Homo sapiens: one gene and its partner. The protein of the gene in region 1 interacts with the protein of each later gene in a biochemical or structural test. Each region holds a gene or a part of one and is shown on either strand. Other genes may lie near its edges.

Evidence for each region. Proteins that work in one complex are often made in the same cells at the same time.
Region 2: the proteins of PREX2 (region 1) and RASSF6 interact in a test that uses a peptide from one of them, tested with the Homo sapiens proteins (one large-scale study listed by IntAct).

The regions. Positions count from the first base shown.
Region 1 is NC_000008.11:67,950,528-67,954,280, forward strand, and holds the start of PREX2 (phosphatidylinositol 3,4,5-trisphosphate-dependent Rac exchanger 2 protein), read left to right. Parts: upstream 1-1,518; 5' UTR 1,519-1,867; coding exon 1,868-2,008; intron 2,009-3,753. UniProt on the Homo sapiens protein: Functions as a RAC1 guanine nucleotide exchange factor (GEF), activating Rac proteins by exchanging bound GDP for free GTP.
Region 2 is NC_000004.12:73,582,320-73,585,972, reverse strand, and holds part of RASSF6 (ras association domain-containing protein 6), read left to right. Parts: intron 1-608; coding exon 609-793; intron 794-1,139; coding exon of another isoform or gene 1,140-1,154; exon of another isoform or gene 1,155-3,367; intron 3,368-3,653.

The sequences.
Region 1 (3,753 bases):
GCTTTATTTATTTGCTTTTTTCCCTAGGGAAAGGTGCAGACCTGGGGAGGAAGAAATGCTGCCTGTAGTACATGGGGAGAAGGTTCAGTCATGCTTGCATTTCCCATTCATTTCTGGATGTGTGCTTCCTATGTCTTCCGCTTCTTTTGTTTATTGTTTACTAGGTGCTGTGAGGTCTGCTCTTTAATATGCTTTGCCCTTTGTTCTTCTGCCACAGGGTGTGAAGCCATCTATGTTGTTTGCCCTTTGCTCTTGGCTACCTCTAAATAGTCATTTGTAAAAGAAAGAGGAAAATCACATCTTGCCCATCAGCTTTGTGTACATCATTCGAAAATTTTATCTTTAATATACAAAGAAAGTACAATCCTTCTTTGTGTGGTTACAGAGGGGAATGGTCACACTATGCTCTGGAAAGACATCATCTGGAAAACCAATAGGTAATTATTTTAATGTAAATATAGTGAAAAGCATCTTTATGTTTTAGAGTTTTGCTAATGCTTTCAGTGACTGCAACAAATTAACATACCACTTTCTTGCAACAACTCTATTCACTCTTCAGTTTATTTAAATGCCATTAGTTTTAGACTGAAGTTGATCTGTGGAAAATATATGTGTATAATACCAATTCAAAAAAATATATAAATTGTTTTGTTTGTTAAATGTATTGGAAATATTTAAGGCTTAGTTTCCAAGTGAGAAAAGGCAATAAACTTTAACTTTAAAATCAAGAATGTTCTGTGTGTCTATCTTCAAAAATCTAAGATTATTTCCGTTATCTATCTAGCTTTCTATCTTCTGATGAGCATTCAACAACAGCTTTATCTTTTCAATTAGTGACACCGTCTTAAATCACAGCAGCTCTTAGAAACAAAACTGGCACAAATACCCTCGCCTCTCAATGGATTTACATACTATCTTGATGTTGAAAAAAGTTGTAGACATGGAAAACAGCACAGTACAAGGGTGATGCTTATTTTATCTGGGGTTTATTGCATGGGCAGAGGCTGTCATTTTCCCATAGTGTCTTCATTTATTATGCTAATTGACTTTCCAAGCTCAGACTGGAGGGTGTCTGCCCTGTGAACTATTCTCAGTTGGAGGGTTTTAAAAGCAAACCTGTTTTGTGCCTGAATGAAACAAAAAATCAATGTGTTTCTTTTCAAAGAGGGAGGGTCAATACCGTGGTTGTTTTTGTTCCCATCCAGTTATGTAACCGTGGGGACTTGTTTCTTTGCTTTCAGGATTTGTACGAAACACATTAAAGTTAAACAATAGCGGAGGCTTAGGAGTAACCCTCGAGCTGCGCCTTGGAGTGTGTGTCCCTGGGATTGGGAACCTCCTGTGAGTTCCATATCAAGTGCTGCTGTGTGTGTGTGTGTGTGTGTGTGTGCGTGTGTGTGTGTGTGTGCGCGCGCGCGCGTGTGTGTGATTAGCCAGTACGCAGTACTTCCCCAGGGTTGTGTTTCCTTTTTCCTGAGATTTGGCGAAGGGTAAAGGGTCGGAGTCACATGGATACAAAGCTTTTGATTAATGTCCAAGTCACTGCTGTGGCTGCCGAAGCCGCTTCCCCTCCAGCCCCGGCCGTGTGAGGCCAGAGCAGCGGGGCCGGGCGCGCAGGGCCTGGCCGGAGCCCCCACTCCCAGGAGTTTCCTCTGCAGAGCCCCGCGCCCCCCGCGCCGGGATTTCAGCCCGATCCCCTCCTCTCCCTGCGCCCAGCCTCTCCCCAGCATGTAAAGTCTTCTGTCTCTCCTCGGAGTTGGCGGAGGCGGCAACTTTCCATTCTCGCCGCCGGGGGCCGGGCAGCAGCGGGCGCGCGGGTCAGCGCTCAGCACGGCGGGCAGCGCCGCGCTGCGCACCGCCGCCGACCATGAGCGAGGACAGCCGCGGAGACAGCCGCGCCGAGAGCGCCAAGGACCTGGAGAAGCAGCTTCGCCTGCGCGTGTGCGTGCTCAGCGAGCTCCAGAAGACCGAGCGGGACTATGTGGGCACGCTGGAGTTCCTGGTGTCGGTGAGTGTCCCCGGCAGACGCAGGGGGACGTCCGGGCGGCGCGGGGCGCGGGTCCCGGAGTGGCTGCGGGAAGGACGCGCGGCATTGTCTGTGCGGGGACCCGGGACGGGTCGGGGCATCACAGGCGCGGGAATCCACGTGTGGACTCTGCGTTCGCGGGCGCGGTGACCCCCGCGGGGATTTGTTGGTGCCCCGAGACTCACTGAGTTGCGGGGGCCTTGGAGACCTCCAGGTCTGAAAAGTTAGCTCTAGAGAAGAGAGCTCCAGTCCAGGGAATCCCGGCTGCCCTATCTTCCCTCACTTTTCTTTTACCCGCCTCCCCAGTCTGCTCAAGTGCACTGTGTAATTGATTTTCCTTCTTGTTCTTTCCTGGAGACTTTGTTTTAAAGCTTTGGTTTTGTGATTAAAGGTCCAGTCGGCTACATCCAGGTACACTAAGTTAAAAAAAATCCTTGAATGTGCTCGAGCTTGAGTTCGTTACTCAGATAACATGGCAGTGGCCGCTTTAGTTATGGTCTTTGAGACAGAGGATTCTGGTGTAGGGGTACAGAGAGAGCAGCGGGGTGATGATCTCTAGCAGCTGTTGGATATTAAAGCCACATGTGGCGCTCACCCTGTCCTAGTCTTACAATTCCCTCCCCCCCGCCCCCCGCCCCGGCTTAAATCTGTCTTCTGCTCAGTTTCTGGTCCCCTGTTTACATGGCCCATGAGAGTGCTGTAATCAAGCTTCGGGACTTCGTGGAAGTGGGGATGTACTTATATTCCACGTTTCTGCTTGACTCACTGCCATCTGCTTTGAAAACGTCTCATTCATTTTAGGGCCGAAGGGGCAAAACTGAGTGAAAGTAACTGCTGAGATAACACTCAAAAGTTGAATTTTTCCTATTCATTGCTGAAAAGACAAAGAATTTGAGCCTTGGCTTCTTTCCACCCAGATTCCTGGGAGAGCATCATTCAAAGAACCAGGAGCTTTAGTTTTTGTGATCTCATCCAAATCCTTCTCCTTCCAACAACCAATTCCATGCCCCCTTGGTCTGAAGGAAAATATTTCAGGTGCCAAACTTCCTGCTTAGTGTTCTGAAATCTGTCAACTTTCTGCTTATAATCATGACAGATAAAATTCACTTCTTGGCTGTGGCAAGAAGGAAAGAAAAATGTCTCAAGTGATGTAAAATGTACAGGCTGCGTTATGGTTGACTTCTCAAAATCAATATACTTGACTTCCAGGGGCCACATTCTCTGCAAATATACAGGTATTTGAGAATATCCTGGTAACTGGTGGTTTATAGAATTATTATATACTTCCTTGTAACAAAGATTGTCAAAAAAGTATGTTTTTAAGATTTGATTTTTAATAGCTTTAAATTTGGCTTTCATGAAACTTTTTTGGTAACAAAGTTCTTTGTCTTTTGAAGAATCTGAGTCATTTCTTACATAATTACTCTTTCTGAAGATCTGTGAACAAAGTACTGTGCAGAATGCTAATTTGCAGAGACAGTTAATCTAATTATATTAAAAACCAATTTGTTGATCTTTATTTAAAATATCAGTTTTTCTTCTAATCTTAAACCTGATCATTACAACAGAAAACTTACTGTTAGTATATAGAGTTAGGTAAGAAAGTGTGGAAAGTATAAAATAAATTTTCCCCTTTTATAAGGAGAACATCATTTCATGATTTCTTTTTATCTCTTTCAGAATTTATGGGCTCTTCCACTTTTCATTTTCTTTGTGCATCATTTGTG
Region 2 (3,653 bases), on another chromosome or scaffold:
TAGCATTAGGAGATATACCTAATGCTAAATGACGAGTTAATGGGTGCAGCACACCAGCATGGCACATGTATACATATGTAACTAACCTGCACATTGTGCACATTACCCTAAAACTTAAAGTATAATAATAATAAAATAAAAATAAAAATAAAAAAATAAGGATCCAGACCTGATTCTATCATTTATGAGTACTATGTCCATAGGAAAGCCACTTCAACTCACTGTACTTTTTCTTACCTGTAAGAGATCAAACCTGATAAAGTATCAGGTTTATTCCAGCTCTAACACTCTGAAATGCCACAAAATGCACTCCCCAATAAATTAAGATTAAAGGAATGCCCAAACCCCAAACATGATCATTGTGATCATTTCTTATGAAACATAAGAATGAGACATAAGAATTTTATATGAGATACTGGCAGAATTTGCTGAGTCAGTCTCAGGCAACATTTAATAAGTAAATATGCAGCTAAGCAGTGGACTATAATGCTTTTACACAGCCAGAAAATAGCAATATTCCTAAAATTAATGAAAGCATACACAAATCCACTCAGGATGCTAGGACACAGGCAGCTGAATGATATGAGCTTATAATCTATTCTTCCCAGACTATTTATCTTATCACAGCAACACCCTGAAGCCACATGCAAAGGATGAACCAGACTCCCCAGTGCTCTATAGAACCATGAGTGAAGCAGCTCTGGTGAGAAAAAGGATGAAGCCTCTGATGATGGACAGAAAAGAAAGACAGAAAAATAGAGCCTCTATTAATGGACACTTCTATAACCATGAAGTAAGTGAGTTACAATTCCATTAATGTAATATAAAATAAGGTTCCCTGTTTCACTAACAATACCACCCAATTCAATTCACAATTTAAAGTCATAATAATAACAGTAGCATGTCTAACATCTTGGGGGCACTCTCTATGTGCTAGATATTAAAGTAAATGTGTTTTAAATAGATTTTTACTGAATTATCTTATTAATCACTAAAACAATCCTATGAAATAGGTACCATTATTTTCTTTACTTGACATATAAGCTAATTGAGGCTTATGGAGATTAAGCAATTTGTCTTAGATTATGCTACTCTTAAGTAGTAACTCTCAACCTGAACCCAGCTTTGTCTGACTCCAGAACACAAGTTTTTAACCACCATGATGGGTGAACTCTATCACTGTGCCAAGTATTAAAAACATGCAGATGAGGCAGCCGATGTCTCAGCCAGCACGGAGCTCAGGGATTGAGCAGGGAAACCAACATACCAACAATAATACTGGAATAATGTAAGTGCTACAAAGTGGTTGGATCAAAGGACATTTGAACGTGAACATTTAAATAAAAGGAAAAAGCCACAGGCCAATTTATTCCAATAAATCAAACTTCTCATGTTGCCATGTTCCAGGTCTTTTACCTATACACATACCGTTTTTATATAAGTGTAGTTGTAGTTTAGATACAATTCACATTCTGCTTTTTCACTGAATATGTGTTAAATTTATATGTGCCTTTCCATAGTGCTTGTAAGACATTACATTTTGCTGAAGGTAGGAAATATATCATCATTTTTTTCCAGAACTCAAATATTTTTCATGTGATGTACTTTAGCAATCATTCATCGCTCCATCTCATAAATACTTAGCACTTACACTGTGCCAGGTATCTTCTGAGGCCTTTAATAAGAAATAGGAACTCATTGCTTTGTAGGCTTTTTCCTGTAAGGATTTCTACTTTATTTCTTCTTCTTCTACCCTTGGGGGGTAACGATAGTGTGTCTTTGGAGCCTGGTGGGGAGAAATCTCTCTTCTCAATTATTTATTCATATCAGAATTTTAGGGTTCCAGAATCATTCTCATAGCTATAAAGTAGCATTGATAGTCCCCCACAGAGAGGTACCTACCAATTGTCCTGTTTCCCTCTTCACAGAAATTGTGTTGTATGTCATTATCTTGTGGGGTAATTTGTGTTGAAGAAGGAAAGCCACATTGCTCCAAGCAAGTGGCTTTCAGATTGGATCACTTGTGCTGGAAATGAAATTGACACTAGGTTGGCAGCACGGAATGGTGGTTAAATGCTTGGGCCCTGGAGCTTGACAGCCTGGTTTTACATTCTTGCTGAGCAAGTTTCATTCTTCTTACTTTACAAGGCTGTTGATGGGATGGAATGAAATGAGGTAAGTTCAGCATAAGAATAGTACCTGGCACAAAAGAACTCGGTCTACATTAGCTTATGTTGTTGCTGTTGATTGAATGAGCTCAAGCTGGGACTATAGATATTTTACACAAATGTCATTCACTGCAATTTAATAACTAGCAGAAAACAATACAAACAAAAAAGAAAAAACAAAGCATTCTATCAACAATTATACAATGACGGACATCTAGGAATTTTAGTGGATATGTTTCTTAAGTTGCTGTGTGTCGTAAGATATGTTTTTATACTATGAAGCCCCTTGTTAATGCCAATATTGTTAGGCTATGAATAACACACATATTAAAGGCTTAGATTGTCATATCTGGAGATTAGTTATGGTGAATATAACTTGACCAGTAGTATATTTCTATCAATGTGATAGTAAATGATAGCAGGTTTCATTATATGTTTTGGCCAACACAACTGATATAAAGACTATAGATTTAAATACTGCTCTGAAAAACAAATTCACTATATGTTGACATTTTAGAAGAGCTCTTAGAGATTAGTCTTACTATCTTATTTTATAAATGAAGTCATTTATCAAATATATGTTAAGTGAGTCAATAAAGATGTTAAATGAGTTGACAAAGTTGGAGTTCGTGGGCATTTAGTGGGCACTAAAATCTAGGTCTCCTGAATGGTAATCCATGTTATTGTCATAGTGCATGAAGCTTCTTCACATAAACAACATCAAACCACGTGTACAACATATCATATTCACCTTAGCGCAGGATGAACATGTGGTTTTTCAGGGCTCCATAGAAATCGTAAATGTCACAGAATAACTTATCAATGCTCTAAAATGTCTACAAATATTGAATTTTCTCATACTTATAAAAGTTTATCCTAGACACTCTCCACACATCTTCTCAGAAAACTTATTTACATATCCACATTTTTACTCACACAAATGCCGTGTGTGTGTGTGTGCGTGTTACATGTGTGGGTGTTATAAATGTTTGTGTCTGTATACTTTGATGTTAATTTACTGATCTCTCAATATAGGACTTATCTTTTTAACAGTCCAATGAGCCACCCCAAAACCCACCCATCTCTACATCTGCTGAACCCACCCCATTTCTACAGAGCCTTGGAATACTTGGAGATTGTGCATATAAATAAAATATGTGGAAATAAATCCTTACTTAATATCTCTATCCGTTTTTAAATATGCATCTGGTGACATTCTTTCTTACTTATTTTGAAATCTTAAACTGCACTAAAGAGGGGTGTAATTGTCCAGTGAAAATGTTATAAGCATCCTCAAATGGTGTTTTACCTAATTTACTCTAGAAACAATATAAAGCTGCTTAAAAGAACACATAATATTCAAAAACAACAAAGAAAAACAAACAAAAACAAAACAAATTTTTTAAATTAATGACCTTGGATTTTTTTTGCCCTATAAGAAGATTATGTTCAAGATATTGAATACCCTTAATATAATATAATTTT